Linked DNA regions of Homo sapiens: region 2 is linked to region 1. A link means that fine-mapping ties the variant in region 1 to the expression of a gene that starts in the linked region. Tissue or cell type: testis. Region 1 holds a variant in brackets; the other region holds the start of a gene. All regions are shown on one strand. Distances are from middle to middle.

Region 1 (16,217 bases):
TGTGGGAGGCCAAGGCAGGCAGAACACCTGAGGTCAGGCGTTCAAGACCAGCCTGGCCAACATGGAGAAACCCCATCTCTACTAAAAAGAAAAAAATATATATAAAAATTAGCCAGGCGTGGTGGCAGGCACCTGTAATCCCAGCTACTCGGGAGACTGAGGCAGGGAGAATTGCTTGAACCTGAGAGATGGAGGTTGCAGTGAGCCAAGATCACGCCACTGCATTCCAACCTGGGTGACAGAGCAAGACACCATCTCAAAACAAACAAAACAAAAATTGACAATTATTGCATACTATAGAAGATCATGAGAATTAGACTTCACTGAAAAATATAAAAAACCAAAATACTACACAAAGAAATATTTTTAAACATTAATGCATAAATTCTACACTTTATACTTTACATTTTCATTTTGAAGTCTTGGTAAGAACTGTTCAAAATGATAGTGATGGTTAATATAATAAATTCTGCAATAAAACTAATCTAAGTGTGGGAAATACCCAAGGATAAAGAGCATGATTTAAGTCAGGGGTCGGCAAATCTCTTCTGTAACTGGCTAGATGATGAATAAATATTTCAGGCTTTGTAGTTCTCTCCTGTAAGTACTCAACTCCATCACTGCAGTTCAAAGCAGTCATAGACCATACACAAACAAATTGGCATGACTGTGTCCCAATAAAACTTTTATTTACAAAAATGGGCAATGAGCTGGATTTGGCCTATAGTCTTGTAGTTTGCCAACTGCTGATTTAAGTCATTAAACAGGACTTCTCCTAATGTTTATTAATAAAATTTATGCATCCATTAAATCAACATAATAAGTGTTAATATTCTGTTTTACCTGAACTATTTTTTTTTATTTACCTTAACTATTGGGCGGCAGGGGAGGGGGGAATCCAAAATGGATTTCCCTGTGAGAGAAGCTGTACAAAAGAACTCACAATCAGCATATTGTGAGCCCAGGTCTTACAGTTCTTTCTGAATGTAAACTCCTATTTACTTTAAAACAGAAAAATTTATATTTCCCCTAATAGTCATGGCCTGTTTATCATGATATAAGTGATTGTCTATGAAAGATAAAAAAGCAAAACCCACTAGTTGATACATATAGGTAAGATGATTTAAAGGTGGTAACTTGTCATTTCGGTAGAAAAAGATCCAAGGGGATAAAGATCTGCTAGCAATACTGTAAACCCTGTTATAGTAGCACTTATCCTATGTCTGCTATTATGCCAAGAAATTTTATATATCTTTAAACCTTACAATCACCTAAAATATATTTATTATCACTTCCACTGGAGCTCAAAAATATTCTACTATCAAATAAAAAAAAATTATACTATTTAATCTACAGATTAAAAAACTGAAGCTAGGCCAAGGTTACACTGCAATTTTGTGGTAGAGCCAGGAACTGTACTCTCATGTGTCTGCCTCCAAAGCCTGCATCTTTGTGGAGTAATGGAAATTTTCAATGGCTCCCCACTGGACGTGGCACAGTGTAATTCTTGCCCTTCGGGGGTTATGGATCTCATGGGCACCTTTTCTTATCCATGGTACTGAATTTTTTTACTACTCAGCCCTACCTCACCCTCACACCTAAACCCAAGTATTTTCACTGACATTAATATACAGAAATTCAAATCTAGACTTTTAAAAAAGATGTTAGATATCTAGAAATTAAAAGTCATTGGATTACCTATCCTTGTTGTCTAGGTGAGGTAAAAAAAACTATGACAAACTCTTTGATAAAATTTTAGAAAATAAAAGGGAAAAAATCCTAAAAATTATCTCCCCTTCAGTCAACACAATGACATGGATGATTACTTACCAATAACAATGCCACCAATGGCTCCAGCATTCTGGATGTTGCGTGCCTTTTCTGCAAACATGCACTGTCCTCTTTGTATCAGTGCGATTTTTCCCATCACTGCCTCTGGGTTAGTAAGCTCTGAACAACCATTGGATGGTTTACTGCTTGCAACAAATCCTCTTGTCTGTCAGAAATAAAAGCAACTTAAATACTTTAATCTTCTCAAATGGCAATCAAGTCATTAAACCTCAATATCTAGAGTTTTAAAAGAACTAGAACTCATTTCTTTTCTAATGATAACGTATCTAACATATAGTCACCATAAAATATTGTTTTAAACATTTTGCATATCACAGTACTCAACCAATATTTCTAGTGTGCTTTGCAGTTTATAGAACATTTTTATATAAACTACAAAATCTGTTATTTATAATGACCCTGAGCAAAACAATACAAATAACATTTCCCTTTCACATATGGGGAAATTGAGACTCAGGTTACGTAATTTGCTCACAATGTTAACACGATGTTACTAAGCAGTAAAGTTGGGACCTGCAGGCAGATTCACTACATTTACAATAGCTGGGAACTAATTTGAAATGATCATTGGTAACAAGAAAAGTTTTTGAAAGGGGAAAAAATGGACTTAGTCTATATGAATCTGCAAGCAGTTCTTTTTACCAAAAAAATTAAATCCACCAAGGAACTAATTTTTTTAAACACGTTACTATAAAGATGTTTTAATATCCTTCACTCTACTAAAATGTAAATTCCATAAGGGCATGGATCTTCATTGGTTTTGTAAACTGATACAGCAAGCAGTGCACAGAATATAGTAGGCACTCAATCAACAGTTGAATGAATCAATCAATCTATATAGCTTCTACATAGTTTAAAATATACATGAGAAAAAAGTCTAAATTAGCAGTAATAGAGTGAAAAGAGCATTGGCTTTAGATTGTCACGATACTTGGGCTCTGGTCCCAGCTCTGCAATCAATTAGTTAGATAACTTTGTGAATTGCTTAGTTATGTAAGTCTTTGTTTTCTACGTTATAACTATGTTACAACTATAGAGGATGGACTAGCTAAATGATCTTCAAAGTTTGCCCAGTGGAACCTCAGGGTCCCAGGCTTTCTCCAGTCACTTGAGCCAGAGCTTCTGTGCTTTTAGCTGTTTTCTACATTAAGCTCCTGGTTTAGACTTTTGTTCAAAGAAAGGTTCTAGTGGCTCTTAGAAAGTCTGAAAACCATTTTTAGATCAATTACAGGTATTAAATTAGAGAAGAGACCAAGAAATTGAATAGAACCTGAATAATATTTTAGTTAAAATTCTGTAAGCATATTATATACATAAATTATGACTCAAAGTTTTCAAGACATGCTTTTACTTTACTTAAATCCAGGAGATTGACTATTTCAGTTTTTTAAATAAATTAAAACTACTAAATTAGAGAAGAGACTAAGAAATAAGGCAATACTTAATATTTTAAATTCAGTTTCAACAACTATATTTTAAGTATACATACCTCTTTATGTTTAGACAGATCCAGCCCAAACTGAGCTGGTCCAGCAGTCAATACTACCCTGCCAAAAAATGGGTGGGAAACAATTTGTACAGCTCGTGGAGGCAGCTGCTGTTCTTTTTGTTGCTGACTTGACAATTCAATCATCTCCTGCATGAACCTCAACCCATCTTCAGCGTCGATTGAACTAGCAGCCTATGAAAAAAACAAATTCATTTTATCCTTCCTTTCTGGAAACTTCCACCAATTTTTTGATTTCCTAAAGACACTGTACTGTAGTATTCTACTCTACAACTTCTTCTTTCACTTTAGGTCACCACCAAGTATTTATGACCTTATTTGTACTCAAAAATAATACTTTCAGAAATAGTATTTCTGAAAATAACTTATCCGTATTTTTTATCAATGTCACTTTCGCTATTCTATAAACCACTTTTGATTCAGATTGAGAACTGGACTTCTAGCGAATGCTCAAATGCTCACTTTGCTTATTCTCCCCACTGGCTTTCCCTCTGAAGAAATAAACCTCATACCTGACCCACACTTTCCCTCCTTGAAATAGTGAACAACCAGATTCAATTTGATTCAAAACATATCTGTGAAGCACTTATTCCATCTCAGCACTTGCCTAGGCATTGGAGAGACAGTCCTTTAAGAAATTTGTGTCTGGAGGAGAAAGACATGTAAAGTTAGCTATGATAAAATTTCTCAAGTGGGAAAGTGGAAAAGGAGCACAGATGAGGGAACAATTGATTCTGCTTGTGTGTACCTGGGAAAGATTTAGAATGACACTTGAATTGAGTCTTAACAGAGGGAAAGTTGAAGAATGACTATAATAGAAAAAAATAAGATGATTCCTGATACTTTACAGGAAAAACCAACAAGACATGATAGAAGTTAGAGGATGGAAAAGGATAAGAGGAACTGGAAGAGAAGAAGAGTTCAAACCTATCCTGAAATTTCCAGCTTTGATGACTTAAAGAATGATGATAGGTTTTACTGACATGGAGAGCCAAAGAAGGAAACATAGGTTGAGGTGAGGGTAGAAAGAGAGTAAACAAGAAAGAGATAATTCAAGTTTGGACAGATTGAGATTGAGATGCAAGATGTATGAGAGGTAGATGAAAGTTGAATTTAATAGTAAATTTAGGAATCAGGATTCACATACATAGCTAAGAAGTCATATGTATAAAAATGATAGCTAAGCTTGTAGAAATAGGTGACACTGTTGAAGAAGAGTATATAGAGAAAAGAATATCATCCAGATTCTTGGAAACTGTTTACATTGAGTGGTTGTGCCAAGGAGAGCTACAAAGCAATAAACAGTGAAGTAGAAAAAGAACTTTGTTTCTGAAATATCCTGGGAAGCCAAAAAGGGAAAATGTTTTATGAAGGGTTCAGCCAATAGTTACAGAAAAGTTAAATCATATAAGGATCAAGAGGCCACTTGGCAGTAATTATGCCATTGGCAGCCTAAGTAAGTAAAAGCAATGTCACAAGAGATGTCACTCCCACTGAGGCCAAATAAAATACAAGGAAGAAGGAAGAATACTCTTAAAAGAAGGAAGGATGTGGCAAGAATATGGATGAGATGAAAACTTGAGGGTGTGATGAAGTTGTGGGAGGGTTGAATTTGAGATTAAAGGATACCTGAATATGGTTCTAGGTTAAAAATTATTCAGCAAACTATGTGGTTTTCTCAGAATCAATATACTAATAAGGTAAATAATTTAAAAACTTTGTGTTATAAAAACTTTCAAAGTAAAAATCAATAAAAATTTCTCAAAAAGACATGTTATTTTTCCTAGGCACAGACAAATAAATACCTATGATGAACAAAATACTTAAGATTCAGTAGCTCTTTGGAGACTAAAATGATGTAAAACATGGAGATATGAATATTAAAACTAATTACTAGTTTTTGAAGTTATGTTGTAAATAAAAGTAACAGGGGAAAGCCAATGGACTGAGAAACAGAAAACTTAGATTTGAGTCCTGCATTTGATTATATTAACTTCAGCAAATTACCCAACCTAGCTCTGATTTATTTAATTGATTTATACTATAAAGGAGTTGAATTAGGTGACTTTCCAAGATACTTCCAAGTCCTAAAATTCTCATTCTCTCACTTTAAACAGTATATTTAAAGTGTTTAGAAAGTTGAAATCCATTATCTTATTAAAGCTAATGCGACCAAAGAAAGCAGGGCAGAGACGGTATCTAATTAGTGTAGCAATGTCTTACTTGGATTGCATGTTGGACCAACTGGACTCTCCCATCTTTGAGGTGAATCAAACTCACCCCCATCTTCTTCAGGATTTCTAAATGCTCAGGGTTAGTGGCCATGAAATCTCTGGCTCTCAGAGGGGGTTTAGCTCCACTCCTGAAACTCTCCTCTCTGCTAAAAGTAATTACAGGCAAGGCTTAAAAAACTATAAATTAGAATTGGCAAAAAACACATGTCAAATAAAAATAATGTTACTTGCAAAATTGCTAGTTTTAGAACTAGTGAAACTGGAATAACTAGAAAGTATTTTCTTACATATAATTTAGGTTAACAAGTGGTATAGCTTTCAAATATAACATTTTCTAGTTATAAAAGTTTGTATATTATCTATATAAGGCAGTATTAGTCAAGAGAACTATAACTATTTAAAGGTACAGAACAAGTTTGCTTGGGGATTTGTTACTATTGATGTTATCCTTTAAAAACACAGATTTTTCTCCCAATATTTTAAAAGCAAATCAATACTTGCATCAGTGAATAATAACACTTATGTAAAAATAATTTTTAAAAAGTCCTTGCAATGGCCTAATATAACTACTCGTCAGAAAATGAACTCATTAAGCCAATTTTAACAAGCAAGAATAAGTACTCCCTCAAAAAATCAAATCCAAACAAACAAACAAAATACCTGTATTTTCACTACACAGAAACTATAGACAAAAGGAAATTTTTTTTTTTTGAGATGGAGTTTCGCTCTTGTCACCCAGACTGGAGTGCAATGGCGTGATCTTGGCTCACCGCAACCTCCACCTCCTGGGTTCAAGCGATTCTACTGCCTCAGCTTCCCGAGTAGCTGGGATTACAGGTGCCTGCCACCATGCCTGGCTAATTTTTTGTATTTTTAGTACAGACAGAGTTTCACTATATTGGCCAGGCTGGTCTCGAACTCCTGACCTCAGGTGATCCACCTGCCTTGGCCTCCCAGTGTCCTCAGATTACAGGCGTGAGCTATCATGCCTGGCCAGAAAATATTCGATGAAACTATTCCATGAAAAATGAGTTATAGAAGTTAAAAACTGTTACATGCTGCCCACTATTATTACCTTAGTTCATAAAATAAAAGATATATTGAAAGTTTCCAAAATAATAAAAAAGATATTACTGCAAAATAAGCTTTACTATCTAACTTTACTACTAATTTTTATTTTAACCAGTGATAGCTACATACCTCAACATTTTCGGCCTATGTGAATGTCTTCTTGGCTGTTGATACATGCTCCCTAAGTTCTCTGTCATTTACTAAGAAACAACTTTGATATTAGAAAATATAAAATAATACATCTTACACTCTGATGATGCCTCTAGGACAGCTCTTATCCACCACATTTTTCAAGGGCTCACGAATACTTTGAGCATACAATGGGTCATTAGGAAAGAGGATCTGAGTATTTGGACAAGTCCAATCGAAGTTACTGTCATCCAGTTCTGTATATTCCGAGGTCTACAAGAGAAAAACATTTTATGTAAACAGAAATAATTATTTTACTTAACATAATTTTTTTTTTTTTGA[A/G]ATGGAGTCTCACTCTGTTGCCCAGGCTGCAGTGCAGTGGCGTAATCTCTGCTCACTGTAAGCTCCATCTCCTGGGTTCATGCCATTCTCCTGCCTCAGCCTTCCGAGTAGCTGGGACTACAGGCGCCCACTACCACGCCCAGCTAATTTTTTGTATATTTAGTAGAGACGGGGTTTCACCATGTTAGCCAGGATGGTCTCAATCTCCTGACCTTGTGATCCACCTACCTGGGCCTCCCAGAGTGCTGGGACTACAGGCATGAGCCACCGCACCTGGCCTACTCAACATAATTTTTAAAAGGAAACAGTTAATGAAATATATAAGTGTATACAGGATGCAATAAAAGAAAAAAAATAGGAAAATGTATATATTTATTCTTACCATACATATATTTATTGAATTCTACTCATGGATTACTTTTCACTTGGAAAAATAAAACATGTAGAAATAAAAAAGAGAATAAGACATTTCATTTAAAAACTCACTGTGTTCTTTTTAGAGATGCTTTGATTTGTAGTAGAGAGCCAAAGAGGTAACAGATGAGCTTCTGTTGTAAAGATGTAATCTTCTATGTCAAAAATAATGTCTTCTTTATCAGCAAATAACAGGTAAAGATATTTAAACATTTCAGCCAAGAAGAAAGAATCCATTCTAAAATAAAAAGTCACAAATAAATATAAGTAGATAAAAATAATTTAAATGCCAACTATATGAAAGCCATAGAGTCAAGGTTAATAATCCTGTCTATACCAACTTAGATGTTCAAAGAACTATAGAATGTATCAATCTACCAGGGGCAGAATAACCTTGACTCCAAGTATATTCTATGTTAATGAAAAAGACCAGAGGAGTTGTCTACCACACTGATACACTGAATCTTGTGAATAATGCAGACAAGATTTTTCTATAGGCCTTTCAATGAGGGAAAGTTCTCCATTTCTTCTATAGAGAATCAACAGCAGGGAGGTAACTGATAAATTTTACTAGTGAGAATCATATAAGAATCTTCCATTAAATTAGAGAGCTGGAAAAAGTCATACAAATTTGACGGAATTTATTATGTAGCTATTTAAGTGATTTAAAAAGAAGGCTTTAAATGTAAAGAAATTACTTGCATGTAATTTCCTGGCCAACATGGTGAAACCCCGTCTCTACTAAAAATACAAAAATTAGCCGGGTGTCGTGCCAGGCACCTGTAATACCAGCTACTCAGGAGGCTGCAGCAGGAGAATCACTTGAACCCAGGAGATGGAGATTGCAGTGAGCCGAGTGCAGTGTCACTGCACTCCAGCCTGGGTGACAGAGCAAGACTCCGACTCAAAAAAAGAAAAAAATAGTTACATGAAAAAAGTACAATGCAAAGTCACACGGGCTATGATTATAACATGCTAAATATTTATTTACCTGTTAAGAAGGGAATGTGGAGAAATAAAGACAGTAAAACTATATGTGTTTTTACAAATGATTTAATGTTATAATGTTTTAACAATTTAAGAAAAGTTTAAATTAAAAGTGTCAGGAAAAAAGCATAGCTGGTAGATGGAGTCATAGTAACATCAAATTTAATTCACTACTCCCCAAAGCATCATAGGTTTTGGCAGTAATAAACAACTTCTAGTTTACTGGACAAGTTGCACAATTTCATACCTCTGGCCAAGCACAATTCCTGGCACACAGTAGGCACTCAATAAATGTTTACTAAATTAAATGCAAGTTTAAACAGCGTGATTAAAGAATGAGCTGGAGAGGGAGTAGAACAAAGAAGTAAAGAACATGGGCTTTGGAAATAGAAAGATCTTCCACTAATTAGTTCTGTCACCATGGGGATATTATATAAGGACTATGAGCTTCAGTTTATTCTTCTGTAAAAGGAATATAACAATACACTCATGACATTGGTGTGAAGACTGAGATATTAAATGTCAATTATTTAGCATAGCACTTGGCATACATATGAGATTGAAACTACAGCTATCATTTTTCCTACATACACATGATTTTTTATTTTGGAACAAAAACTCACCTGAAATGTTTCAAAACATGTTTAGCCATTTTGGATATTAATCTTTTTAGACAATATAAAAACACTTTCCTGTTTATCTGCAATACACTTATCATAATTCAACCTTTTCTGATGGACTGACAGTTATTACATGAGCAAATGCTATCTTGAGAACTGCAGACAGATGAGCAGGATACTGATAATTGGCAAATACTAGAATAGACAATTTGTAAACATTTAGAAAAGAACAAGGCATGGTAAGATAACTACAATATGAATTGGGCAAAGCTAGCAAGTTGAACATCAGATCATATGATCTATTTTATATTTTAAAATCATAAAAATACATAAATAAAAATACACAGGCATTAAAAATGTCTGGAAGCCTTTATAAAATTGCTAACAGTGGTAATCTTACGCAGTTAGGGGACAGTGTCTTAGCAAATATTTTCCTATTATTTTTGCCATTTACATTCTTTTCAGTAATTATGATTAGGAAAATACAGATATTTCCATTGTGAAAAGTGTGTGTGTATGTCTGTGTCTGTGTAGATGATGGTAACCTGGAGGACAGTGATAGTGCTTAGATCTATAGGGTAATAAACCACCACATGCAAAGAGCCTGTAACTGAAAGCTCTTGAGTGCAGTGCCACAAGGCACTGGTTGGGGTCCAACCAAAACTTCTTCCTAACAGTTTGGATGAAAAAAATGTAAGGTATGCTCATCTAAACTATAGATCATTGAAAACTGGTAGTTTAGCTAATGAGATTCAACCTCTAGACCAAAATCTAGAAACAAAACAAAAAAAGAAATTTTGCTGAGTTAAATATAAAAGTTCTAAGTTTACACTAAAAAAAAGAAAACTTGGCTGCTCAAAGGCAGGGTGGAGAACACTCATTTGTCAGCAGACCATACAGTTAAGTATGTGAAACTAGTTGATCACAAGCTCACTGTGAGCTGAACATAATAAAGCTCCTAAAAAATCTAAAGCACATCTAATAACACAATATGATGAAGAATGGTAGTTCTTAACCTTTCATTTGGCTAAAGACATCTGAGAGGCACAACAATCCCCTCAGGAACAGTGAGTCAATGAAGCAGTGGTCCTCAACTGGATAGAGGGTGGAAACTCATCAGCCTCATAGAACATTAGTGACCCTTTGCCTGAATACAGACAGTTATGGTGCTGTGTGCCAGACACATCTTGAGTATGGTTAATTCTGGATGTGATATTTTAAGAGTTATTATATATACTGGAATGCAATCAGAATGGGGCAATGTCAGTGGTAAGAGGTCCAGAAACAATGTCATAAAAGGAGTATTTGGTGGGGAAAAAAAGAAGGATGTTACACTTTGAAAAATAGAATTCTGAACAGTAAATCATGTCTTCCTCTGCAATTCTTCAACTTGTTACCTCTTTTGTATTTTAGAACATATCACATGGTTGTGATTATTTCTTTACACACCTATCTTATTCACTAACTACAAGTCATGGGAGTGCAGGGACTGGTTCTATTTTATCTTTCTACCCCACACTTAAGTGCAGTGGCTGGCATACAGTAGGTGTTTAATTATTGTTCTTTAATGAATTGCCAGTATAACATCATTGTCAAGAGCCAATCTGCCTAGATTAGAATTCTGACTTAATCTTACTAACTGTGTGACCTTAGGCAAGTTCCCTAACTTCTCTTTCCCTTGGTTTCTTCACCTTTAAAATGAAGACTGTAATAGTACACTTCAGAAAGCTGTTGTAAGGATCAAATTAGTTAAACACATAAAATGCTTAGAAGACTGTCTGGAGTATAGGAAACAGTCAATAAATGTTACAGGCAAATAAATACACAAGGTATCTGCTTTTATTTCTTGCTATTACTTGTATGCCTGCTTCCAGAACCTAACCATTTCTCATTAGCTGTGGTTAGGGATGGAGATTCGAAGCCTAATTAACCATTATCCGAACACTAAGTGAAGAACTAAGGGACAACTCTATGGGTAGATGATGAGTGCTGTGTTTCTCATGTCTTCAGTCTCACTGCCTGGAACTTCTTTTACATCTTTCTTCTTCTAATTCTTGGTTATCCTTCAGGACATAGGAGCCTTCAGGAACCCTTCGCTGACTATCACATCCCAACTTGTGCTTCATGCCCCTTTAATATGTTTCAAACACATATACAATGTTTTAAAAGTCTGCTTATTGGCCTGCCTTCAGTGATTCAAAGACAGAAAGGACTTATCTTCATATCTTTAATCCTCAAAAACTAGTAAGAGCCCTGGCACATAAGGGGCCTCAGTAAATATTTCTGGAATGAACATTTGCTAACCAAATGAACAAATAAGCTTCAGCATTCATTTAGAGATGTGATAACCAGATAAGTGATCTTAGAATAAGGAGAATGCTTGTGAATTTCATGTGGAGCACTTTTTATAGCTTGAATACTTCATACCATCTACATCTATCCAGTGTCTAATGAAACAGAAACTACCACTGGTCTTTCCCACTCCTGCAAGTCAGCAACGGTGTAAGTACACACAGCTTTTGAGGAATTCTTGGCCGAACACAAATCACATTCCAGATCATTCCTCATCTTGGTAATTTCTAATGTCTTATGTAATATAAAAGGAAACTATTATCAAAGAAGAAAAAAAGCCACATTTTAGATAGTCCTAACACCAAGGTTCTGATATTTAACAATCATCGATTCATTTATTTAAAAATCATTTGAGCACCTACTATATGCCAGGCACTATGATAAAAATACAAACTTTTCAAACAAATTAAAATTAGTGTATTCAACAGAGTTTAAAAAAGTAAACACAAGGAACAAAGGTTTCTATCCTTTGTAAAAGAATTAAACTTATTTGAATCCTAAATGGTAGCTGCATTTTGTGTTGTTTCAGAGAGACCCTGAGGAAAGAGGATGTTAGCAATTGTTTTACCTGTCCTCATGACTTCCAGTACGAACATCCTTCATGGCAGCAAATCCGCAAGGCACTCTAGCATATTTATTTAAATTTTCAATAAGTGTCTTCCCTACTTCAAGGTAGTAAGGATCTCCTGTAGCCTATTAAAAAGGAGAATATATGTATAATATATATAGCTTATATATTACCACATATCCATTCATTTACCAAATATTTATTGAGTACCTACTAGGTGCCAGGCACTGTATCAGGCACTGAAGGACATTATATAGAACTGAGTTCTGAAAAAAAGCTATGAATCTGCTTTACAGAATTTCTTAAATACACAATTATAAAATTTAACTATATAACCTTAGTTTTTAAATTTCTAATGCTCAGAAAGGCTGCCTGAAGAAAGGCAAGAGACATGCTTTAGAAAGCAGCTCTAGAACATAAAATTTCTCTTTAAAGAAATGTTTACATAATATTTTTTAAAGAAAAAAACCTTGCATGTCAATTCTTGCATCATTCAATAATTCTATGGACTAGATGAATAAGAATCATGATATATCCAATCATTATAATATTAAAAGGGGACTCTGAAAACCCAATTACTATTATGAAAGAATGAGAGATCCAACAGAGAATGGAGGCTAAACTTTAAGTAAAATGGGGTATATTTTCTTACTTTATATAAGAAGTAGGTACTTTCTGCAAATTCTGGCCTTAAAGGATGTTGAGCCCAGTGTACTCTGAAATCTGTGGTAAATGCCTGAACAAAACAACATACAAAAGGCATAAAAAATGTGATTAAATACACAAGTAGTTCCAGAATATATAGAATATATATAAATAGGTAAAAGCAATTAAAATAGCAATCAGGACATTTTCATCAATAAAACATCAATTTTCATTGCTTAAAATAACAATTCATTTTGCAAAGGCTGCTATTTTTACCAATTAAATTGATTATTTTTTCAGTGATCATTCTGGCTATTAGAAAACTCAGAAAAACTCCATAATGAAACTCAGCAATGCCACTACATGGGTCCTGGTGGTAAACATAATTGTGTTTTCTTTTTATCCTTCCCTCTACTTTTTCCTCTGGATTATTACTCTCCTAGTTCTCATATTTATTTTTAAATTTTTTAAATCGACAAATAAAAGTGACATATATTTATGGTATATGACATGATGTTTTGATATATTTATACACTATGAAATGGCTAAATCAAGCTAATTAACATATGCATTATCTCACATAGTTCTCTTTTTTTGTGGTGAGAATACTTAAAATCTCTCTTAGCAATGTGTAAGCATACATATTTCATATTTTAGCTTATATTTTCTAAAAGCCTCAAATCCTTTGTGGAATAAGACAGAGCATTATTTAGAAATAAATAAAATTAGTCTATTTGAAATTTATTCAATAACATAATCAATTGGTTTTTAAAAGAAAATAAAAATAAAAGCAAACAAAAACTTTTATGGGAGCTAAATAAAAATTTCATTTGTGATAGATGTATTAATTGAAACCTCAGTTTATTCTGTATGGATATGAATTTTCTACAATGCACAGTCCTACTCACCCGAAGGCTAATAAAACTATACTTTCCAAAACAAACACTTTAGGAACCCTTCTAAGTTGGTAGAATGCTTAGATATCTCACAGAGGGTAGTCAATAAGCGGGGATAGAACAAGGCCATACACACATTTGGAAATTTTTAACGGTACATTTCTGGGAAGCCAAAAAGTATGCTATTAAAATCTTGTCATATTAAGCTAGCAAGAATATTTATTACTAATATGATGTATAAAAATCAGGAAGAATAATTCTCAATCAGCATGAGGAAGAGATGGCATTCTATACATTTCCAGAGGGCATGTGTGAACAACAAAAGTATATCTAATATATACTGTTTTCATAAGACAAGCTTTAGAAAATAAAAAGTGACAAAATCTCCCTAGCTGGTAGGTACATACAAGAGTTAGAATGAGAGAATATTACAATGGCATAAGTTAGGAAGAGTTGAGAAGAACTAAGCTGGGAATTTTTTTACATAAAATTTTAAAAATGTCAGCATTACCCTAAATCAGACTTCTCTTAACACACAAAGAAAAGCAAAAACATATATAATACTGTACAAACCAAAAATAAACTATTTAATAGGAAAAAAATAAAAAGAACCAACAAGCCTTGAAGATGACATTTTCTACCTTTATATTAGCAACTTATAGTGTATATGTGTACGTGTGTGTGTGTGTGTGTTTGTGTGTGTGTAAGATTATTCCAAAAATTATTTGCTTACCTCTGGTAGAAAATTGTGTTTTTTAATCACCTGATATAACATTTCATGAGTTTCAATAGCAGGTCTAATATCCCCCTTTAACACCTAGAAATCAACAACAATAAAATTACCTAATAAAATATGAGCTGATTTTATCTCTAATCATTACATAAACAGAAAAATGTATACAAATACAATTCTGAACTGCAACTATGTTTTGTAGTTCAGTTTTAAAGATCAAAAATGCGCCTAATTAACATCATCATCTTACATTCATATTAAGAAGACAGAATTCTTTATACCTGCAAGCCTGGGAAGAAGGCAAGCAAAGCATCCATCCAAGTCCGAGCATTCAGCATTGGTTTGTGGATATGCACATCAAGTAGAAGAGGTGGCTGGCTAATATACCTCATTATGGCATCATAGTGCTAAAAGATCACAACATGTGTTCATGAAAGTTAGATGAAAAAAGAGGTACTACTCTAAACACATTAAATAGCACTGTGAATAAATTAAACTAGAATTTATATATAAATTCACTAAATAACTACCAATTTATATAAATATTTAAGTTATTTTAGATGGAGATCTTTCTAAAATATATATGTACTCCTTTATGTCCTCTAACTCACATGCAGACTATTAAAGACTATCTGTAATATAGGACCTTCTGAGAAAAATGGAACTGAACATCTCTATGCCCTGTGGCGTTAGCCCGTGGTTGGTATGACTTTGCGGCCCACTGATGCTCATAGGTCCCCTTGTAATATAGCTATCAGCTTCTGTATTACAGAATTTGCTTTTTCCTGTATCTTGGAAGTTTGATCCCTTCTCGGCTAACAATATTTTGGTGCTCACTACTATCTAAACTAATGCAGCTAATCACTGCTGCCACTCTTATGGTTTGCTATCTCAGCTTATTATGGTCTTAGAAAACTCTTTTTCCCTTCTTTTGTCTTCTTCTCCTAGATATTTCTCAGCTTTGACAAAAGGTTGAGTTGTGATAACAAGCCAACAAAAATAGTTATTTGTCCCCATTTACCTCAAGAAATTCTTGTTATAATCTAATAAACAATCTATGTGATAATTTTAGAAAGTATTCAATTAATGACTTATTAACTTTTACTAATTTTTTTTTTGCAAATTTACCTATTATTTAATCACTATTATTGAATATTGGCCATAGGTTAAAGGCACTGCTCTAATCACTTTGAATGCATAAACTCAATCCTCCCAATAACCCTATAAATAGTACTAGTACTCCCATTCTGTAGATGAGAAACAGAGGCAAATAATATTAGTTACTTGCCCAAAGTCACAAAACCCGTAGGTGGTACAATCAGAATTTAAACCAGTACATCTCCCATACTTTTTTTTTTTTTTTTTTGAGACGGAGTTTCGCTCTGTCGCCCAGGCTGGAGTGCAGTGGCGCGATCTCGACTCACTGCAAGCTCCGCCTCCCGGGTTCACGCCATTCTCCTCCATACTTTTAATCACCATGTCATACTGTCTCATACATACAACATGGATGAACTGATAGGTGAGCAAGGAAATGGTAGATTAGTTTAAAAAGAATATAGTGATATAACTGATGAGTTTGCTATATTCATTTCAGTTTGCTTCAGTTAAAAAGGTGATTCAATTGGGTTCAATAATCCTCCCACTTTTCCCAAAAAAACATGCTTGTGGTTCTGAACCAGTCTTAAGACTTGCTTTTGAAATGAATACTCACTAGTTTCTCCAGGTCTTCAAAGCCCTGTATCCTTGGTGTAATCAAAGACTAAGCCAAACTTCCAAGATTTCAAAAAGAATTGAAATACAAAGGAAAAAGCTAACTAGTAACATATTTCAATAATTCTTATCCTTGTACAAACAAGATTAGGTAAAAC
Region 2 (16,217 bases), 41 kb after region 1:
CACAAGAACTGCTAAGATAAACATCAAATTCATGTCATTTGGTAAACGAGAAAGCCATCTGTGCAATTCACTGTGGGTAAACTGCAGACTGACTGGGGCTAGACATTTGTCAAACATAGTCGTTATTAATAGTCATGCCAATAAGTGTTAAAAACCCAAAAATCCCTAGATTTAAGTCCAGAGATGGCAGAGTTGTAGTAATCTACCTAAAGCTGGCAGGACATTTCTATTAAGAAATAGCATTAATAGAACCTTCTATTACATTAATAGAAAGTAAGTTCAAAGGGCACATGCCAAGAACAGGAAAGAATGTATGCGCTTTAAGCAAGTTCTATGTACTATCTGGAGAACAAGTTCTGAGTTACAGGCTAAGTGGATTTTAGGAGGGCAATTTCAATTTAGGCAGGAAATAAATAATAATGATAGTAGTAGTCGTTATCAGTAGCAGCAGTAAATTCTTACATCATGCTTCCTATTTGCCAGATATTAGTTCTAAGCACTTTCATTATATTAACTTGCTTAATCCTTCTAACAACATTGTGAGGCTGGCAAACCATTGTCTTCATTTTGCAGAGATGAAGAAACAGGCTCAGGAAGACTAGGTAACTTTCCCATTGTAACCCAGATGAGAGGTGGCAGAGCCATCTCAGGGTGTCCTGCTCCAAGTCCAGAGTTCTTGCTCTTAATAATACTATATTGCTTGTCTTTGGAAAACACCACTGCTTTCCTGGGAAGCAAGAAGGTTAAAGGAATTGTTCTACTGTAGACCAGACTGGAGAGTAGTATTAGAAAGAACTAGTGAGAAATGAGGAAAAACTTTCAACATTTATTAAAAGCCTGCCATGTACCAGGCATTTTATATTTTAGGATAGTAGGCAACTGACTACAAAAAAGTAAATGACTTACAGGCCCTGAAATTCACCTTAAACTTGTATTTTTAATTAAGTTTATTATTTCTTTGCATTTAAACACAAAGATATATCACAATGATCAAATGCAAAAAAAAAAAAACATTATTTTACTTCATCTTCACAAGAATTCAATTCAGTTCTTTCAAAAAAATTTGCTAAGCATTTATGTACCAGGCACAAGACATATAAAAAAGGTGAATGTATTAAAAATTAAAGAAATTGGTTCCTGTTCTTTAAAAAAAAATCTATAGTCTACAATAACTCTTTGCAATTATTCTCATTTTACATAGAAAGACACTGCTCAGATGGGTTAAATAACCTGTTTAGGGTCCAACCTGTAAATAGCTGAGACAGGATTTGAACTCAAGCCCTTCTAACTCCAAAACCTATACACTTTTACCCTACAGAAAGCTAAAAGTGTTTCTGAGTGTAGGGACCGGAAAAAAATTTCCAACTGACTTCAAATAACAAATACAAGGCAACTGTATTCTCGTTAATATTTTAGAACTGTGTCATGTTAGTTGAGAACTTGAAAAGAGGAAGTGTAAATTCTAGACTAAATCTTGGGTTACAGACCTCACACAGATTGAATATAGAAGAAGTACACAGCAAGAGTCACTCACATTGTAAAATAGTTGAACATTTTAAAATACATATTACAGTGGACACGTATGGTCCCACTGGAAATATATAAGACAATGTTACTTTCAAGAGTTCCCAGTCTTTGAAGCTGAAATCCTTCTCTCTTAAATCTTATTAAGTAGTTAATTGTAGCAGAAAGTTACTCAGTTAGGTCCCAATAGGCACAGGCCAGAAAGTCCTCTGAAAGCTGCCCTCAGTACCTGCACTGTCACAAACCTACTAAGTGTATTCTATAGTTAGAAAAAATGTATTGATATAACTTTCTGCCATTGATATAACTGTTCTACCTAAAAAGAACAAGATATTAAAGATACCATGCTTTATAAAGAGATGATCCTATTCATTGTGAGAAACTGAACTTATCCAGCTATATGCTATTTTATTTAACTTTGGAACTGCATTCATCAGTACGCATTTATGAGATGGCTAAGGTCTGAGGGTATAGGATGGAACCACTTGGCCATCTCAAAATCATTAGCCTAGATTTGTTAAATTATGCTTTGCCCAAACTGAATTAACCAGGGATAAATGATTTTGAAAGAAATAAGGGTTGACATGTGGGTGACAAAAAAAAATTAATTAAAAAACAGAACGGGTGTAATGGCTCACACCTGTAATCCCAACACTTTGGGAGGCAGAGGTGGGCAGATCACTTGAAGTCAGAAGTTCGAGACCAGCCTGGCCAACATGGTGAAACCCCATCTCTACCAAAAATACAAAAATTAGCCAGGCATGGTGGCACACACCTGTAATCCCAGCTACTCAGGAGGCTGAGGCAGGAGAATCACTTGAACCTGGGAGGTGGTGGCTGCAGTGAGCTGAGATAGTGCCGCTATACTCCACAGCCTGGGCGACAGAGCACAACTCCGTCTCAAAAAAAAAAACAAAAAACAAAAAACAAAAAAAACATTAAGGGAATGACTGAGGTCTTGAGAAATAAATTTGAAACTGTGTTTTTAATGTTGAAATGTATCCAAAAAAAATCATATCCTAAAAACATTAAGAACTCAAAATGTGCTCTCTCCAAATTTACAATATAAAAGAGAACGAGGACTGTCAAATATAAAACATGTTTTAAAACTAAAAATGCATAAATTACATATATTTAGATGTTCATAGATAACAATGATGTTAGTGTATGAAGATATTTGGTTAATATATGATAAAAAATGGATTCACAGAATCAGTTGAAAAATATTTTAAGCAGAACTAAAGCTAGTCCTCTGCCAAACTTTCCCAACTACATTTTATACGTTGTAATCATAGAAGAAAATCTGCTGACATATTTTAAAATGTAAAAACAAGGTTATAAGGGATAAGTTTCAGGATAATATGCTTAAACTCTTTTCAAATTACAATTTATGTGCAAAATTTTTTTTGAATTCCAGAATTTGCTATTTCATCTACGTTGTTGCACAACAGATCTCCAGAACTTTTCATCTTGTAAAACTGAAACTGCTATTTAATCTTAAGTGAGCCCTAAAACATTTTTAAATAATATGAATCAGCAAACTAAAAAGCAAAATATATTCAGTGCAGAGTCCATGAGGATACAATTAGGACAGAGGCTAAGTAACAATTTCTCTTTTAAGCAATGGTTTTCTTCAGTGTATAAATATTGTAAACATTTTTTTAAATTAAGAGAATAATCTCCCTTAAGACCAGAGATAACATCTTCATGTATATATCCACAATATCTAGCTATATAAAGCACTCAATGATAATTGTTGATGGCACCCAAGGAAGCTGTTTAAATAATGAAGTTTCATAATCTAATTTCAATTTATTCTTATCTGTTCAATAAACTGGTTCCCTAAAAACCACTACCAGAAAGACTATTTTTGCCCTGTTTTTTAAAAACTTCCTTTTAAAAAATGTAATTGTATTGTAGGTTTCAAAATTCCCAGTTGACTGTGCTCACATAATAATCAACTCACATAAATGGTAGGTAAAGATAAGCTTCCTACTTACCATATAGTTACCATAAGCATGATCAAACATTTCCAGTACTTGATTCCTAATTTTAAAAGAGCAGAAATGGAAAAAAAAAAAAAAAAAGGTAAGTATATTCTATTTATTATCTTTCAAAAAGTTAATTCTTCCTCATAAAAAATATACCAATAAAAACAAAAGAAAAATTTAGGTAGAAAGGGACATAAACAGAATCAGAAACTACAACAGCTAGCAGACAAGCTTTCATGAACTCACCACACAGAGCTGAGCCAAACTTTAATGATTACTAGTAATTTATGTACAATTCATCTTATAATTTTTCCTAAGAAAACTGATGAATGATAGATGCCATCATCAGAGAAGGAAATCTGATGCAGAAAAACAATGACCTCTTAACACAATTATTTAACGTATCTGTCTTGAAGCGGGGGTTTTGCTGGACAGCCCTTTAAAAAAACCATTATTATTGCCATTTATTGCTTCCCCTATATGTTCTACTAAGAGAGAGGTACACAGGTGTGTAGTGACATGAAATAACAACGCTTTATGAAGCCTCTGCCTTTGCACTTACATTGAATAAACCACTAATGCCTAGTTTAAGTACATATTTATTAATGTTTGTCATATTTTCAAAAGATACTTTTTATGATGTGCTCTACTCTAAAAAAACTGTCAAAAATCAAATAAATAGTATTCACTTCCAAAATGAGAAAACTAATGCTCAAAAAGAGAGTTGTGTGTTTTGGCGAATTCTGTTTCACAAAATCTCCGTAACCACTGTTTAAAATGGAGATGTCTGATCACTACACCAGAATTTTACTAAATCAAAACCTGTAAGGTTGCGACTGAGGAAGCAGCCTTTCAATTAAGCACTCTCAAGTTCAGGGACTTGAGGACTACAGGAAAAAGTACAAGTTAATTGTATGACCAGACAAGGCCAAATAATTAGCAAAGGAAAACACAGCTTAACAATTTTTTATTAACTTTTTCTTTTTTTTTTGAGACAGGGTCTCACTCTGTCACACCTAGGCTAGAGTGCAGTGGCACGATCTCAGCTCACTGCAACCTTCACCTCCCAGGTTCAAGCGATTCTCCTGCCTCAGCCTCCCGAGTAGCTGGGATTACAGGCGTCTGCCACCATGCCTGGCTAATTTTTGCATTTTCAGTAGAGACAGGGTTTTACCACGTTGGCCAGGCTGGTCTCGAACTCCTGACCTCATGTGATCCACCCGCCTCAGCCTCCCAAAGTGCTGGGATTACAGGTGTGAGTTACCACGCCCGGCCTATTAACTTTTCTTTTACCAAAGTTCCAATCACTGATGGCAAGAATTGAAAAAAGTGTTAAAGAAATTGCTGACTATATTTTTATTTGCCTCCTGTTATACTGCAATTGTCATTTTTAAAACTATAATCACAGATTATGAAATACTGGTAATAATAGAGCTAGCAAACAGAAAAGACCTCAGTTCCAGATCCTGACTATGAACACCAACAAAATCAAGTACACTCAAACTTGTGAACGAATTAAGTCCTGACAACATATGAATAATAACCACTTAAAAACATTTCATTATTTAAAAAAAGACCTTACCACCACTTTGCTAAAGCACTAATTCTTTGTAAGTTTACATATATATATATGTTTATATATATATAATTTTTATATTTGTGGTTTACAGCTCTAGACTCTTATCCTGTCCTAAGCAGAAAAAAAAAAGTTTAAAATGTCCCTTTCAGGAACTCATATCAATGAATGGAAGATGGAAGTCCTCTTTTTTTTCCTTCCCTGAAATGGAATACGAGATTATTACCAAGAAGTAGAAATTCCTATAATTGGCAATGGTAGTGCCTAGACATGTATATTACAAATGACATAAGCTTTAACTTGCTAACTCAACTTTACAAGCATTCAATTTTCAAGACTGTAAGTAAATCATGATTGCATACAAGGAGAATACACTATTTTCCAATCCTTACATTTATGCAGCATATGATGAGCAAATTTTAGAACACATATTTCAAAGTGGAGCTATTTAATATCATTGCTCTTACACATAGAAGCCTAACAAAGTCACATTTAAATACAGAATGGTATAATAATTACTATACTGAACAGAAAAAAAAATTTCCATAATGTTTTATCTATTCAAAAACTGGATTAAAATGTATTGGAAATCAGACCCAGTTCAAAAATTACACCACTCTTCAGTAATTTCTGTAAGTCGGCTTTTTCTCTTTTTTTGAGACAGAGTTTTGCTCTTGTTGCCCGGGCTGGAGTGCAATGGCACGATCTCTGCTCGCTGCAACCTTCGCCTCCAGGTTCAAGCGATTCTTCCTGCCTCAGCCTCCCGAGTAGCTGGGATTAAGGGCATGCGCCACCACACCTGGCTAATTTTGTGTTTTTAGTAGAGAAGGGGTTTCTCCATGTTGGTCAGGCTGGTCTCGAACTCCCGACCTCAGGTGATTCGCCCGCCTCAGCCTCCCAAAGTGCTGGGATTACAGGCATGAGCCACCATGCCAGGCCAAGTCGGCTTTTTCTAAAGTTACGTCTCCTGCCCACGTGCTATAGAAACTGGATTGTTTTCTACTTCATTTTTTAATGAAAACATAACATTAACAAAATACCCTGTTGCAAAATTTTAAAAACAAAACCAAAAAGCTTATTCCATGAAGGATAAGACTACATATAACCAGCTAAGTAATTCCACAAAGTGTAAGTTATTGAGCAATTGCTTACTATTCATGACAATTCCAGTCTTTATCAACTATTTGGTTTGTTGGTGGGGAGGGAAAGGGGTGGGGCATTTTCTGCTTTTTATCATGAATCATTATTTGGGCTTTAAAAAATGCACAGGTAAACCTAATGAATCAAAGTTCAGTTTTCTGAAAATTCCCAGAGAAAGCAGTCATATAATTGTGTATTTGTCGTTTATAGCTCTAGATTCTTACCCTACCCTTACTCAAGGGTAGAGCAATCTAACAAGCCTAAATAATTGTAATTTCACTTTCATAAATGATCTCAAAATTTGAGCTGAAATTTCAAGCCAATTTGGTTGAACTTTTCCAGTTAAAAACTAATTTTGGTCAAAAATGATTTATCCAATGACTCTTTTACAAATAAGTTTTTAATAAAAAATGAAGAAAGGGTAGTGATAGTCAAATAAGATTCTTGTGGTTCTTAACAGACTTGATACTTCTCTTCCAAGTCTAATGAACGTGCAACATACTGGAGAGAGCCTGGCTCTGGGATCAGACAGGCTTGGGTTTGAATGCTGGCTCTACCAATTACTAGCTTTGTGGCTGAACAAGTCAACCTTGGGTCTCAACTTCCTCATTTGCAAATGTGGATCATATTCATTGGGAAATAGGAAGGAGTACAGAGATAACATATGTAAAGTATTCACAGAGTGAGATATTTGGTAAAACTTATCAATGATACATTAAATTCATATGAGAGAAAATGTAAGATATTTATTAGAGTTTACCGGTAATTTTATTTTGATGGTTGATACTTCAGCTTTTTTCCATCAAGTGACCTTTATTGCTATTTAGAAACGAATACAAGACTCTTTGCAATGATTTAAAGTACATAAAGTAAGACCTGATGGTTCCACCACCCCTCCAGCCTAACCCCATGAGATAATCTTCGTTCCACTTTTTTTCTGAGCTCAGATTTTTTTTTTCTTTTTTAAAAAAAACATGGGATGATACTATACATATTATTCTACAACTTGCATTTTTTTTTGTTTTGGAAATATATTCTGGATAGGCTTCCAGTGACGTACTTCCTTCTTCTTAATGTCTCAATATTATTCCATAATATGAACGTACCCTATTGAACCATTTCCTCCAAGGAAGAGCTGTTCTTTCAAAATGCACTTTTTTTTTTTTTTTTCGAGACAGAGTTTCGCTCTTGTTGCCCAGGCTGGATCTATCTCTGCATTAAGAGTGCTTTTATTTTCTTAGGGTAGATTCTCAGAAATAGAACTGATGAATCAAAGTGTGCACAATTTAAATTTTAGTAGATACTACCAATAAGTTACAGCAATTTACACTCTCACTAAGCCTTTTTTTTCTATTCCTTAACTAACCAGAACCGTATCCTTGTGTTTTGTATTATATTTACTAATCTGATGGGCAAAAACCAGCTAGCTCCTCGTTTTAATCTGCATCTCCTACGTTTATGGAGGTTGAGTAACTTTTCATGTTTATTTACCACTTCCATTTCCTCTTCTGGCTTAACCGTTCATGCCTTTCTCCCATTTCCTACTGGTTCTTCGCTTTTTTCTTATTCATGTGTAGGACCTCGTGTATGTATTACTCTGAATTAAATGGTGTAAATAGAATTGATAATTTTAACACACTTCCAAGACGGATAAAAACTACTGAATAGGTATACTTGAGACTTTTGAATAATTTCCCCCCAAACATTCTATTATGAAAATACAGTGCAAGAAAACACTGCAAGGAAATAGTAAAATGTGTAAAGTTCAAGTTCCAATGAACGCCCCCTTTTCCGTAACAGGTGTAAACATCATTTCCTTAACTACTGTGAGATCAGCAACATTTTCCCAGTTGGAAGCTCACTTGCGCGAGAAAGCTAACCATGCTTCGGTCGACAGGCAGCCAACCGCAGAACTCCAGCGCGCAGCGATGCGGGCTGTAGCCCCCTTCTTGGGCCACTGACATGGCAGCCGCGTTGACACACCGCGCCTGGCTTCAAGGAGCCTGCACATGTCACCGGCGGCCAGGGCGACACCCCGTCAGCTCCCCCGAGGTCAGGTCGCGGGCGGCGGTTCCCACCTCCCCGGACCCTGTCCACCCCTCTAGGGTTCTCGCGCGGGAAGAGCCGTTCCAATCGCGACAGGAGAGGCCACTACGCGACCGGGTCGCAATGACAGGCACCCCTCCTGTTGTCAGCCTCACCGAGAAACCCACCCCAGGCTGCCAGCACCCTTACCCAAGCTTCTGTTTCTCCTCCCTACTCATGGGCTCGGCCCCCGCCGTCCACACGGAGGTGGCCGACACCAGGCAGAACGCGGCCGTCGCCGCCACTAGTCTCCATCGCGCTCGCTGGGGAACCGGGGACCCACAGCCCCGGCCGCCGGCTTCGCTCATGGCCCCGCGGTTCCGCGCACGCGCAGCTGCTACGCCCGGCCGGTGAGACACATTGCTGGACGCTGGTGGCCAGGGGGCTGCTAGCCGTGCCGAGACGGGGCGGGATGCGGAGTAACACGGACGGCCGCCGGCGCCAAACTGTTTCCCGAAGCCACCAAGCCGGTCCCCAGCGCCAGCGCTGCCACCGCCCTCCGCCCTCAGTATCCCGGAGCGCCTCCCCCAGCTTTCCGGTGTCGTAGTCTAGGAAACCGCCTCCCCAACGTTACTTCCGGGTAGGGCCGAAGCCGTAGAGCCTCAGGACCAATGGAGACCTCATGGGAGAGGGGCTGTCTCCGGCGACTGGAGAGGGCATTGGCCAGGAGAAGTGAGACGTGGACAAAAGGCGGGACTGGGAAGGGATCTCTCGCTTCGACCCGCCTCCGACCCGCGGAGTTGCCCCCTGAGGACTACCAGTCCCAGTGTGCACTGCTTCTTCCCCGGCTCTCCCGCGAGCCGACTCGGAGCCGTGTCTCTCGCTTCTACCCGGGGTAGGCGCGCTGCACCCTGGGACTTGCGGTCCTCCGAGGTCGCCAGTGGTTGCTGGGATCCCACCTCCCCCTTTCCTCGGCGCCCTACAGTCAACCCTGTCTCGGTGGGCTGCGGAGTCCCGGGAAACCCGTCAGCTGTTTATCTCTCTTCCTCAGAAAGTTGTTTCCCAGAGAGCTGGCTGAATGAGGCGCACTGTCCCCATGTCAGTGCTGCTGCGTTAGGGAATAGTGTTGGAGTAGTCGTCTACCCTCAGGGAAATTCCAAAACACAGTAACAGCAAAATGAATTGAGCCTTTGAAGGCATTGCGCTAAGGTTTTTACTCGCAATCATCTCATGCACTCTTCTCAACTCTGATAGAGTAAGTACCACCATCCCCCTTTTGCAGACGAGAAAACAGAGGCTTAGAAAAGTTGGTTAACAAGAGCTCGTCACACTGCTGTATTAGAATCCATCCAGCCTCTGATTCGGAAGCCCTTGCATTTAACCACCGCGCAGTACTACAAGGATGAAGGAGCACGTGGGTCCTCGTACATGATTAATAATAGTTACCTCAAAAGCTCAATGTAAGGAGAGCTGTGTGGGCTGCAAAGAAGGTTTAATGAAGGAGATTGGAACTTGCAATGAATTTTGATGACCGAGTCCCAGGTTAACTATTGGTAAAATGACACATCGGTTCCTCTTGAAAAACCACATTGTTTTTCTAGTGTGGTCATTCAATAGGTGCGGAGTTTAGGAGCTTCGATGTGATCTCTGTGACCACAGTAAATTACTTACGTGTCCTTTAAGCAGTATTCGGCGGTCTTTCTGGAAACGTTTCTTCCTTGACTTTTATCACCTTACCTCTTACCTCTTAACCTCTTACCTCTTCTCTGGCTGACCCGTTTTCCTTCATTCTCTCGCTACTTTATATTAAAATACAGGTGTTCCCTTAAGGTTTTCTTTTTGTCCTTTTTCTCTCTGTACTCTAATTATTCCTTGGTGATTTCTTCTCATAAGGATTCAGCCAACATATCTCTGTGGTTGATTTCTAAATCAATATCTGTCCTGATCATTAGACCCACATTTCCACCTCCCTAATAGAAATGTCCTAATGTCTAGCCCAAGGGTAGCTCAAACGTAAGATGTTTTCTGATTCAAATTAATGCATCGGAATCATTGTCAACTCATCTTTAGCCTTCGGGGTCCACGTGCAATTAATTACCAAATTATATAGATTTTACCTCTTCTATCTTTCAGATTATTACCTTTCTTTCTATTCCCACTTTTGCTCCATTCAAGCTTCCATTACCTCTCTCCTAAACTATTGCAGTGTCTCAATAAATGTTAAATATACTTGCTTCCTTATTCCTGCAGTTTTCTTATCTATAAAGTGGGAATAATATGGTCCTTTTATCCAGTAGTCCCCAACTTTTTTGGCACCAGGGACCACTTTTGTGGAAGGCAATTTTTCCACAGGGTGGGGGAGACACCGTTCCATCTCAGATCTTCAGGTATTAGATTCTCATAAGGAGCGTGCAACCTAGATCCCTCGCATGTGCAGTGCACAATAGGGTTCATGCTCCTATGAGACTCTGACGCAGTTGATCTGACAGGAGGTGGAGCTCAGGTGGTAATGCTTGCTCGCCTGCTGCTCCTGAGAGGCAACTGACTGGTACCAGTCCACTGCCCCAGGCTTGGGGATCCTTGCTTTTATCTACTAACGTGGATGCTGTGAAAACACATGAAGTCATTTCTGTACAATATTTAATATCCTTTATTTTTTTGCATGGATCTCCAATCCTACATTGGTTCCATCCTAGTCCTCTTTGGCAGCATTAATGTTGAAGTTACCGATTATCTCCCTGCTGCCCTACTCTCCTCTATACATGGCTGTCAGAATTGGTATTCAAGAACATCTGCAAACCCTCTGAATACCTTCTTTCTTCCTTCTAGTCTGCCCTGCCCTCAAATCCTATGTGATAACTAAATAATTCCTATTCTGTATCCTTTCCATGCCTTTGCTCACACCATCTCCTATGCTACCCCATCATCTTTGTACAACACTCAACACCTGTTAAGGCTGGGCTCAGATTCCATTTCCACAAAACCCTTCCAGAACCTTCTAGTTAGCAGAAGTTATCCTCTCTCTGTGCCTCCATGGTATTCTGTGTCTTTGTTATTGTGTTTTTCATAGTCTGCATACCCACTACATTTTAACCACATGAAAAGTATTGACTTTAGCTTATTTGTAGGTTGTCTTAGTCCGTTCTCTGTTGCTATAATGGAATACCTGAAAGTGGGTAATTTATAAAGAAAAGTAATTTATTTCTTACGATTCTGGACTGGGAAATCCAAAAACCCGGCACCGGCATCTGGTTGGCTTCTGACGAGTGCCTCGTGCTGCATCATGACATGGTGGAAAAGCAGGCACGTGTGAAAGAGGTGAAACACGAGGGGCAGCCTCTCTGCATAACAACCCATTCTGGCGGTGACTAATCCAGTCCTGAGAGAATAAGAACCCACTCTAGCAAGAAGTAACCCAGACCGGAGAGAGCAGCATTAATCCCTCTTAATCACCTCTTAAAGGCCCCATCTCCCCAGATCACCATACCAGGGACCACATTTCCAACACAGATATTCTGAGGGACACACTCAAATTATAGCATAAGGATATTCTGAAACACCTAGCACTGTGCCTCTCCTGCTGTAGATGCTCAGTAAATGTTGAATATACTTGTTTTTGTATTCCTTCAGTTTCCTTATCTAAAAAGTGGGAATAATATAGTCCTTTTATCTACTTACATAGATGCTATGAAAACACATGAGGTCACTTCTGTACAATATTTAATATTATCCTTTCTTTGGACAGATCTGCAATCCAACATTGGTTTCATCCTGGATCCTCTTTGGCAGCCTTGGTAATGAAGTTAGCTAAATCAATACATGTGAGTTGGTCTTGGCTCTTGCATAGAGAACATTACAAACTAAAGGTCAACACCAATCATATGGTATTTGAAAACTAAGAACAAATAAAATAGAAAAACAGTGACATTCAGTTATATGGAAATATAGTCAAGTCAATAATTTGAAGTGGATTATTAACAATAACACAGTTTTCTTTACCTTCCTGATGTTCCAACCCTTTATAAGAAGTCAAAATTGACTATGAACTATCATTAAGAACATACTAAAGAAGAAGTACTGGCTTTTAATGTTTAACATTTTCTAGCATATTTGTTTGTTTTCAAGTTAACGCTGCATATTTAAAGATTATAATGGGAAGCCAGAACATAATTCTTTTTCGAACTGCTAAATAATAAGTATCTTTTTTTCCCTTGTTGAAACTCAATTTCTAGCCAATGATTGAGTCTATTTTTCACTGATCTCAGCAACCTTAAGTAGAAAATCTAGTGTGACCTAAAAGCTCTAAAACTTATCAAAGGTGGAGCCCATGGAAATAAAAGAAAAATATATTCGCAAAATGCATTTCAAAAAAGAACACTTTTTTTTTTTGCTGGGTGCAGTGGCTCACACCTGTAATCCCAGCACTTTGGGAGGCCGAGGTGGGCGGATCACCTGAAGTCAGGAGTTCGAAACTAGCCTGGCCAACATCATGAAACCCTGTCTGTACTAAAAATACAAAAATTAGCCGGGTGTGGTGGCAGGCTTCTGTAATCCCAGCTACTTGGGAGGCTGAGGCAGGAGAATCGCTTGAACCCAGGAGGCGGAGGTTGCAGTGAGCCAAGATCATGTCATTGCACTCTAGTCTGGGTGACAAGAGCAAAACCCTGTCTCAAAAAAAAAACAAAAACAAAAACAAAACAAAACAGAACAAAACGTATTTAACCCCGTAATGAAAATAATGGAAATTCTCAGCTAATTGGCACTTTATGAACACTAGGAAAAATTCACTTACGTTATTTTAAAACCTATACACTTAGTGATAAAAAGGATGTACGAGTTAATTGAGAGAGTCTAGTGTTGTACAGAGGGAAAAAGACTGGTGGAAAGCACATCAGAAGAATAAGGATAGAACTTTTAAAGATATAAAGATTTTTTATGTATAAAACCCATTAAAAATGGTAAGAAATAACAGCCATTTCTAAAATGCCCTTTAACCAGTTAACAATCTGTTTGCACAGCCTTGTAGCTTATGTAAATATGCATGCTCACTTTCCTGCTTGGATGTGTCAGAAGTTAGGGAGGGATAGGAGCCCTGGGTAGAACCATATGGATTCAAAAACACAGGGAGGGGCTCCATTTTAATATTATGGCTCAGAAATAGTCCTAGGAAGCTGGGACCAGCTGTGCAAAACTGGTCATAGAACAGCAGTTGCCCCTAAATGATTTGAATTCTTTAGTACTACAGTTCTAATTACTCCTGAAACTAGTATGGAATTTGGGAGTGGTGATTTTGTCATTCTTCAAATTGCTTTTCCTATTCTTTGATAGCATGCAGAATTGACAACAGTTTTCTTCTAGAGAACCCAATCTTGCAAACATTAAATAAAGACAGTAATTATTCTGCATTCACAATTAGTGACTTTGAGGCCTTAGAAAGAGCACCTCATGACAAAGATACTCGGTGAATGTCGTCAACTGACTTCCTGCGTGGCTGTCGGACTGATTTTTTCAAATTCTAAGAAAGAGAATGAGAGATTCAGATGATTCACCTCCCCAAAAGATGTCCCCAGGGCTTTTTCCACCTCTCCATCTTGATTTGAGATCTTCAAAATCACTTCACCTTCAGATTATTATCCCATTTCTCTCACTGGCACTAGCTCCAACTCTCTCAGGCAAGAAAGTTTGCTCATGTGTCATGATTATTTGGTTGGGTCACTTATTTAGTGGCCATTTTCCATTTACTTCAAGTATCAGAAGCAAAACCAAGTCACATGGCTCTTCGAGGGAGTACATTTTGTGTTTGTTCCCTCTCTTAAATCCCCATTTCACCATCAGCATAGTTCCCACTTATTGGTACAGTGTGGCCACAGGATTTAGGTGAGCACCATTCAACAACAGTTGCACAGGTACCATTCAGGCCAAGAACAATGGCTCTGAGACAGCTCTGCTGATTATTGGCTGGGCTTCCTTAAGCAAATGACTAAATCTCTGTGCTTTTGTTTCCTCATTTGTAAAATGAGAATAAGAATAATACCTACCTCACAGCATTTTTAGAAAGATTAAATGGTTTAATTGTTATGCCTTCCTTTTAGGGATGTTGTGAAGATAATGAGATGGTGTGTGTAAAATATTTAGTACAGTTTGAAGGAACTCAATAAATAGTAGGTATCCATATCATGATTATGAGGTAAAGAGAAAACATCGCCATTGTTGAGAGTAGGATTCAAGGGTGAGTGCAGCTGCTCCAACAGCACCCATGGCTCTGGTTTTATTTTCAGCCCTGAATCTTTTTTTCTTTTTTAATTATTATTTTTTTAAAAACAGAGAGAAAGAGAGACAGGGTCTCACCATGTTGCCCAGGTTGGTCTTGAGATCCTGGACTCAAGCGATCCTCCCACTTCCGCCTCCCAAAGTGCTAGGATTACAGGTATGAGCCACCATGCCTGGCCCCAGCCCTGAATCTTGTCTACTTCCTTTGCTTGCTTACTTCGTGCTGCCATTGCAGGCTCCCCATCCAAAAATGTAGCCCTCTTTAGGCCAGCAACTCCAGAGACTGTTGAATTCAGGCACAGTTTGTATGAGCTATAGCGCCTCATCCCTGTATTAGAGTAAATACGCACAAAAACACAAGGTACTTTTCTGTCCTCTTAAAATTAATAATGGCTTCATTTGTAAGACATTTGAAGTTATAAACGTTCTGGAATAAAGTTGTCAGAAAATCTTTGCAGCTTTTTTGTTTGTGTGACTTTCTTCAGTTTTACTTTGTTTTTGTAAAAGCTCATCTTACCTCCAACCTCCAAGGGATTTAGAAAGATAGTTTTACTGGTTATCTAATTATGAAATTAAGGATCAAAGTGAAAGGTGCCCAGTTGATCTTGTCAAAAAGCATTAGGTAGAGTAATCCCCAACATTAGGACACTTAAGAATTAAAAATAAGTTATTTCTGTAATGATCCTATCATTTCTCATTATCCAAATCCGACATTCTTCCTAGAATTGTTATCCAAACCCTGTGTTCTTCCTAGGAGCTCCCTTTGCATACATATACATATATGTTTTGTATATGAGTATATATAAATATATACACATATACAATATACATATATTGCACATGTATGTATTTGTATACACATACTTGTAGTACTGTCTTTTCACCCTTTCTTCCTGTTCTTGTAATCCTCAGAGTGGTCCAAATTTGTCAATCCCCAGCATTTCTTAACCTCAGAGGTAAATGCTGACAGTCCTTAAATATTTGAAATTAAATATTTCCTGGCCTCCAGCTTAAAGTTCTATGAAAACAGTGCTTATTTCTGTTTCTTCTCCAAATGTATTGATAAGTTTGGAGTTTTTTTGGTTGGGATTGTTTTTTGCTTGATTTTTTACAGGTAGGGCTTTTAGGTAATAAGTGGGGGTAGTAAAGGTTTGTGATGGATGAGAAGTAGAATAAAGAGTTCTTGGTTTATTTGCAGATCAATCTCTTTGTGATACTTTAAAATCAGTATACAACCTTCAAATACATGATTATACTTAAAACTTTGAGAGAGTGGTGTTAGATACACGGCTTTCTTGAAGATCACCATATTTTTCTTGGCACTAGATGATGAGGCAAGTATAGTTTCATTGTGCACAAAATGTACTATTTTTCATCCATTGCTAGAGATTAATAGACATTATTATTTACAGAAGTAGCTCTTAAGCAAATATAATCTTCAGAGCCTTCCTAGCCCTTTTTGGGAGACTTGCACCCAATTTTAGCGCAATCTCTGGGTTCCCAAGGCCCCCACTCTAATGTTTAATGTTTTCTCCTGGTTTTTCTCTGCATCACTTCACATCACTTCCTCTTCCTTCCTACTCCAATTCATTCTGCATGCATATGCGTGTGCGTGCACACACACACATAAACACACACACATTTGCTTTGTGCCTATTCCTGAACATTGAACTTTGAATCAGCTGACTTGG

Which allele goes with the higher level. Alleles are on the strand shown, and positions count from the first base shown. SD is a standard deviation of normalised expression in the study named.
With allele G in place of A in region 1, the expression in testis of the gene that starts at base 8,836 in region 2 is lower (small effect, 0.25 SD a copy in GTEx).

The links.
Region 2: it holds the start of EDEM3, and the variant in region 1 is fine-mapped to the expression of EDEM3 in testis (GTEx, PIP 0.99).

Annotation. Positions count from the first base shown.
Region 1 is chr1:184,704,813-184,721,029 of GRCh38, forward strand. EDEM3 (ER degradation enhancing alpha-mannosidase like protein 3) reads right to left here. Exons shown (of 20, transcript NM_025191.4): 10 at 14,631-14,756; 11 at 14,350-14,433; 12 at 12,728-12,811; 13 at 12,076-12,200; 14 at 7,621-7,786; 15 at 6,911-7,065; 16 at 5,582-5,735; 17 at 3,341-3,532; 18 at 1,831-1,996. Among named protein-coding and RNA genes, the nearest start is that of EDEM3, 42 kb to the right of the region's middle. The variant A/G (reference allele first, on the strand shown) is at 7,135.
Region 2 is chr1:184,746,023-184,762,239 of GRCh38, forward strand. EDEM3 (ER degradation enhancing alpha-mannosidase like protein 3) reads right to left here and starts at 8,836. Exons shown (of 20, transcript NM_025191.4): 1 at 8,467-8,836; 2 at 3,525-3,570. The coding sequence starts at 8,624. LOC105371649 (a long non-coding RNA gene) reads left to right here and starts at 9,152. Exons shown (of 3, transcript XR_922357.4): 1 at 9,152-9,511; 2 at 12,002-12,077. RefSeq lists enhancers at 8,420-8,519, 8,990-9,089.